Homo sapiens: one gene and its partner. The protein of the gene in region 1 purifies or fractionates together with the protein of each later gene. This does not show direct contact. Each region holds a gene or a part of one and is shown in the gene's direction. Other genes may lie near its edges.

The links. Proteins that work in one complex are often made in the same cells at the same time.
Region 2: the proteins of ECE2 (region 1) and LMO7 purify together in Homo sapiens (affinity purification with mass spectrometry; one large-scale study listed by BioGRID and IntAct). This does not show direct contact.

The regions. Positions count from the first base shown.
Region 1 is NC_000003.12:184,279,022-184,282,521, forward strand, and holds part of ECE2 (endothelin-converting enzyme 2), read left to right. Parts: intron 1-3,500. UniProt on the Homo sapiens protein: Converts big endothelin-1 to endothelin-1. Also involved in the processing of various neuroendocrine peptides, including neurotensin, angiotensin I, substance P, proenkephalin-derived peptides, and prodynorphin-derived peptides.
Region 2 is NC_000013.11:75,807,330-75,810,829, forward strand, and holds part of LMO7 (LIM domain only protein 7), read left to right. Parts: intron 1-150; coding exon 151-870; intron 871-1,824; coding exon 1,825-1,854; intron 1,855-3,500.

The DNA.
Region 1 (3,500 bases):
AGTTTAGGCCAGGTGCGGTGGCTCACGCCTGTAGTCCCAGCACTTTGGGAGGCCGAGGTGGGTGGATCACCTGAGGTCAGGAGTTCGAGACCAGGCTGACCAACAAGGTGAAACCCCATCTCTACTAAATATACAAAAATTAGCCAGTCGTGGTGGCAGGCACCTGTAATCCCAACTACTCGGGAGGCTGAGACAGGAGAATTGCCTGAACCTGGGAGGCGGAGGTTGCAGTGAGCCAAGATTGTGCCACTGCACTCCAGCCTGGGTGACGGAGAGAGACTCCGACTCAAAAAAAAAAAAAAAAAAAGAAAGAAAAAGAAAGAAGGAACAGTTTAAACAAAAGTGTTGATGAGGCTGAGCACAGTGGCTCACACCTGTAATCCCCGCACTTTGGGAGGCTGAGGCCGGCGGATCACTTGAGGTTAGGAGTTCAAGACCAGGCTGGCCTACAAGGTGAAAACCCGTCTCTACTAAAAATACAAAAATTAGCCAGGCATGGTGGTGTGCACCTGTAATCTCAGCTACTTGGGAGGCTGAGGCAAAGAGAATCGCTTGAATCCAGGAGGCAGAGGTTGCAGTGAGCTGAGATGGCACCACTGCACTCCAGCCTGGGCAACAGAACAAGACTTCATCTCAAAAAAAAAAAAAAAAGTGTTGACGAGGGAAAGGCTAGGTGTGTCTGGACCATGGCAAGGGGTCCACTGTGGTAAAATATAGAACTCAAGGCAGATGAGAGGCTGGAGAGGTGGGCAGGAATGGGTTATGGAGGGGACCTTGAATAGCACACTACGGAGTTTATTCTGTAGCTCCCGGAGAGCCATTGCATGCTCCAAAGTAGGGAGGGAGCGCAGTGCTTTGGGAAGTCAGTTTGTTTGGGGTGTGAAGAGTAGATGTGAGAAAGAAAGCCTGGAGATGAATTAAGAGCATCTGCGGTACTCCGTGCTCTGAGTCAGGAAGGTCCCAAATGAAAGAGTGGCAGAAGGAATGGTAGGAAGGGGAGGATGTAAGCGATATCATCAAGTCAGAATCATGAGTTCTTGGTGCCCGGATGTTAGAGGAGGGAAAAGGTGAAGATGGCTGAAGCTGTACACTTTCATGATGGTGGAATGGAGGGGTCCCTTGGGAATTAGGGGTGTCTCTAGGAAGAACCAGCTTAGGGTACATTGAGAAAGAGGAGACAGTGCAACATCACAGGAATAGGAGAGACTTTGGAGTCAGACCTGGATTTCAGTCTCAGCTCTGCTGCTTGGTGCAAGTTGATTAATCTCTCTGAGGCTGTTCCCTCATCCGTAAACAGGGGATCATAGCATCAACCTCATATGGCATTTGGAGTAGGTTAGGGGTACAAACTTATGCTCCTGCATGTGGCAGATGCTCAATCAGAGTGTGGGAGCTGCTCCTTTTAGACATGTGAGTTTGATGGGACCTGGGCACCTTACATACAGAGAGGTCAGCAGGCAGCTGGGAAAGCTGTGTGGAGTCCTGAAGAGAGAATAAGCGTGAAAGGACCCAGAGGCCTGAGGGGCATCTCCTTAGAAACCTAACCAGGCCAGGCAGGGTGTCTGTAATCCAAACACTTTGGGAGGCCAAGGCGACCTGATTACTTGAGGTCAGGAATTTGAGACCAGCTGGCCAACATGGTGAAACCCCATCTCTACTAAAAATACAAAAATTGGGCCGGGTGTGGTGGCTCTCACCTGTAATCCCAGCACTTTGGGAGGCCAAGGCAGGTGGATCACTTGAGGTCAGGAGTTTGAAACCAGCCTGACTAACATGGTGAAACCCCATCTCTACTAAAAATACAAAAATTAGCCCGACGTGGTGGCGGGTGCCTGTAATCCCAGCTACTTGGAAGGCCGAGGCAGGAGAATCGCTTGAACCTGGGAGGTGGAAGTTGCAGTGAGCTGAGATGGCACCACTGCACTCCAGCCTGGGCAACAGAGCAAGACTCTGTCTCAAAAAAAAAAAAAAGAAAGAAAAGGAAAAAGAAACCTAAACAAAGGCTTTGAAGAGGTGAGACAGGAGGAGGACAGAGAAAGGACAGAAGGAGATCCTTGTATTTTAAGGGCAGTGGGAGAGTCAGCAAAAGAGATTGCTGTGGAGTAGGACAACCATTTGTCCTTCTGTCATTCATTCAGAAACATCTGCTGAGCATCCCTTGGCCAGACCCTCCTCTAGGCATATGGTGAACAAGACACTTCTACTACCCTCTGAGTGGAGGAGAAGGCATAAAACAGTTCGCTACACAGTTGTCCTGTTTCCAGTTGTTGGGACTATTATAGAGGAGAAGCATAGGGTTCTGAGAGCAAGTGTGACCAGGAACCTGCCTAGTTCCAGGGTGCGGATAGGCTGCAATGAAGGGAGAGGGCTCTACAAAGGCAACAGGTTATGCAAAGGCTCCAAGGTGGGAAGGCATATGGCCAGCCCACTGGCCATTCTCAATGGATGAGGGAGCAGGAGGGGCATGCGGGCCAAGGCCTTCTGGACAGGCCCATAGCCTCACACTATGCAGGAGCATTGTGGGCCAAATTTAGGATTCATCCCGAAAGAAATGGAAAGGGAAACTCAAAAGTGATGTGAACAGATGTGTGATTTTGACATCATCTGAGTCAGGGGAGGAGATAATTTTTACAATTTGGGAGAGAACCACATCCTTCAACCCTTTGGAAGGGGCAAGAGGAAAGACTTCGGTTTGGCTGTCAGCATGTCACTGGTTGCCTTCAGGAAGCCTCCTGTGCTGGGATCTAGAGAAAGATGCAACACAAAAGGTTAAGATAGGATGAAAACTAAGAGTAGGCTGGGTGCAGTGGCTCACGCCTGTGGCCCCAGCACTTTGGGAGGCTGAGGTGGGCAGATTACCTGAGGTCAGGAGTTCGAGACCAGCTTGGCCAACATGGCGAAACACTGTCTCTACTAAAAATACAAAAATTAGCCATGCGTGGTGGCCCGCGCCTGTAATCCCAGCCACTGGGGAGGCTGAGGCAGGAGAATCGCTTGAACCCGGGAGGCGGAGGTTGCAGTGAGCCGAGATCACACACCTGCACTTCAGCCTGGGCGACAGAGGGAGACGCCATCTCAAACAAACAACAACAAAAAAACTAAGAGTAAAGCAGGGTTCAGGAGAGTCTCAAAAGTAAGCACTAAGCTGAAGGTGAGGAGGTAGGGAGAGAAGGGGTAAGGTGAGATCACTGGTTTAGCTAACCATCCCCCTCAGGAGCTGGGATGACTGGGATTGGTACTCAAACCTCTTCCTCTGATGCCAGCAGCAAGTAAGAGGAGAGGTGAGAGACAGGAGGAATTTGAAATACACAGAATGAATATTAAGGGATCTAAAACTTCTTGGTAAGTAGAAGAAGAGATGGCCTTTGGCGATTAGTGGAGCCCAGGTGGGCCTTCAGGTTGAGTGGGAAGTGGTTTCTGGGAGGAGGGTTAAGGGAATTGGCACAGAGCAGTGTTGAGTGTCTGTTTGCAGGTTTTCGCCCTGTTATTCAACAGATATT
Region 2 (3,500 bases), on another chromosome or scaffold:
CAAGAGTCCCCACAATGGTCCTCTAAAATGATTTACCCTCAGTAACTGGCTAGTTGGTCTGCTAATCACCTTTGGCTAGTCGATCTGCTAATTACCTTTTCTCCCTAAGCTTAATAAGATTCTCTTTCCTTTTTCCTCTCTGTGCATCAGTCAGTTTTTACTGCTTCAGGCCCTCCAAACATACTCTGATGACATCTTGTCTTCTGAAACACATACCAAAATTGATCCCACTTCTGGCCCAAGGCTCATAACCCGCAGGAAGAATCTCTCTTATGCACCAGGCTATAGAAGAGATGACCTCGAGATGGCAGCCCTGGATCCTGACTTAGAGAATGATGATTTCTTTGTCAGAAAGACTGGGGCTTTCCATGCAAATCCATATGTTCTCCGAGCTTTTGAAGACTTTAGAAAGTTCTCTGAGCAAGATGATTCTGTAGAGCGAGATATAATTTTACAGTGTAGAGAAGGTGAACTTGTACTTCCGGATTTGGAAAAAGATGATATGATTGTTCGCCGAATTCCAGCACAGAAGAAAGAAGTGCCGCTGTCTGGGGCCCCAGATAGATACCACCCAGTCCCTTTTCCCGAACCCTGGACTCTTCCTCCAGAAATTCAAGCAAAATTTCTCTGTGTACTTGAAAGGACATGCCCATCCAAAGAAAAAAGTAATAGCTGTAGAATATTAGTTCCTTCATATCGGCAGAAGAAAGATGACATGCTGACACGTAAGATTCAGTCCTGGAAACTGGGAACTACCGTGCCTCCCATCAGTTTCACCCCTGGCCCCTGCAGTGAGGCTGACTTGAAGAGATGGGAGGCCATCCGGGAGGCCAGCAGACTTAGGCACAAGAAAAGGCTGATGGTGGAGAGGTCAGAGTGTGTTTCTGCAAGGATTTTGCTTGTAATGGATGGTCTTGTGTAACTTTTCTCATGCGAGAAAGCAGCTCATCGTGTTGCTCAACTCTGCATGTCGCGTGCCATTTTGAAGCATCCCGTAAAATTTAATTTGCTTTGAAAAACCCTCAGTCGTTTTGTACAAAAAGTGCAATTCCATATTTGCATATCTCTAAATAACTTATTTAGGCCTGTTTAAGACTGTATATACATAAACCTTGCCTTTGACTTAAGCAGTACTGTGGTACTATCCACCAATATGAAGTTTCTGGACTTCTCATGTTCAGGCATTTTTGTAACAGTCTGGTTATAGTTTGGTTTTATGTGTTGCTCACATTTTAGAGTGTCTGATTTTTTTGGGGGGGTGAAATTTTCCCTTAAAATATGGCATTGCAAATTTCATTTAACTTAATTTTTGGTTTTGGCCTAGGTTTCTTGGACTATCATTTGTAACTTATTTTTATTTATGAAGTTCAGAGTAAACGTTGATGTTAAAATGCATGAATGGTATTTGTTGTCTGCTGAATTTTATGTGTATGTAATCATGGCCATTTTGATAGTTTGTATTATGCAACTTGCCTTTTTGATGAATGTTCAGTTTGTGGAACTTAGAGATGGACAAATCTGATTAGGTTGAATAAAATTAGAGGATCCAAATCTAACTTAACAGTTCCTGACAATGGGAAGCCTTTTCATATGGATTTGTTAGCTCAGAGTAAATTGAGGAAATTCTTCATTTTGCTTAATCTGAATTTCCTGAGATAGGAAATTGATGAGAACTTGAGACATGATCAAGAATGTGATGGAAGAAGTGACCTTTTGAGATTTGTCCGTCTCCAGTTAGATTCTTAAGTGGAAGACATTGAACGTTTAGAAACTAATATGACTGGGAAAAATGACTTTTTAATTTTTGGTTTTCTGGTTTCTTAGACTCTTTCAAAAGATTTATGGTGAGAATGGGTAAGTTGTGTGGTTCACAGTAAAAAATCTGTGCGTGTTGTTTGTTCTTTGTATAACTTACTGTATTTCTGGCATGGCATGTCACTAAATGGGGTTGTTGTGTGCTGTGCATGATATTTTTTAAGTGGGAAATGTTTATCTTGCAACCTAATGGTAATATTTCTGTGTCTTGGTGCCCAGTGCAAGATAAAATTATTTGTTTTATTAAAAATTTAAACTTCAGCTTCATCCCTTCTTTTTTCCTTTTTAAAAATTTAATGAGTTGATTAAAAGTCACAAAAGCACTTGCCTAAGATTAGGTATATGTATTTTGGTATTTGGTTGCTACATAGACTAAAATTCTGATTTATGGATGCTAAAGCCCAAATTACTACATTTTAGAAAATCTGTGATGGAAAAAGAATATTAGCATTTACTTCAAGTTTAGAATACACCCAGTTGACATTATCCTATAATCGGCCAACTGGGAGCTTCGTTAGTAGGGATGCATTAAACTTCCCTAGGTGGTATTTGGAAGTATTATATTTTCAAGATTCCTGATTAGGAAAAAAAAGTTATAACATGGCTATATTTATAGTGCAAAATAGACCTTCAAAAACTGCAAAAATATTTTTAATTTCTAATATCACTGTTGCAAAAACTACATTTTTTTTTTTTTTTTTTTTTGAGATGGAGTCTCGCTCTGTCGCCCAGGCTGGAGTGAAGTGGCGCAATCTTGGCTCACAGCAACTTCCACCTCCCAGGTTCAAGCAATTCTCCTGTCTCAGCCTCCTGAGTAGCTGGGACTACAGTTGCATGCCACCACACTCTGCTAATTTTTGTATTTTTAGTAGAGACGGGGTTTCACCAGATTGGTCCGGCTGGTCTCAAACTCCTGACCTCAGGTGGTCCATCCACCTCAGCCTCCCAAAGTGCTGGGATTACAGGCAAAAACTACATTTACAGTAAATCATTTATTCATTCTTAGTACAAAATCACAAGGTGGCTATATCTTAATATTTTCCACCAAACTTTCTGTAACTTTGTGAATCTAAGGGCTAATAGTGTTTGAGCAAGAGGAAGAGAGTTAAAGGATGACAGATGTTTTAATCTGCTCAAGCCTCAGTAGCTAAGTATCTTCCCTTATGAGGATTTACTTCATCTATAAGAATCTCTAGTTTTGATAGCTTTTTATAACTTTGATAATTCAGAAATGTTGGAAGCTACTAAATGTAAAGCAGTATAACCATTCTAGATGCCAAAGGTGTAACTGAGCCACAGGCAACAAATTGCAAGTACTTGTTAGCCACTGATTTTAAAAACCAGGGTCCCTGCATGCTTTCCGTGTGCCATGCAAAGGCACATTATCCGCTTTCCAGCTCATCTGCATGATGCTTAAACATTTGCTACTCTCAAGTCATAGGAAAGCTGTTTTAACTTGATTAAAAATCTCTTTGCAGCTTTAAGCATGTTGAATTGTAACTTTCAGAAAAATTTTCATTTGTAAATTAAATATAACTTTATAATGTAAGCAGCTCTCAGAAATAGTTGCTTTTCTTAAAGGAAATAAAAGTACCCAGAGTACAAGTATGTGGTGGAAATGTCAACATGTACAACCATTTCAGTGGCTGGATGTGTTCCCTGTAGTGAGGGGTAAATTATATGAC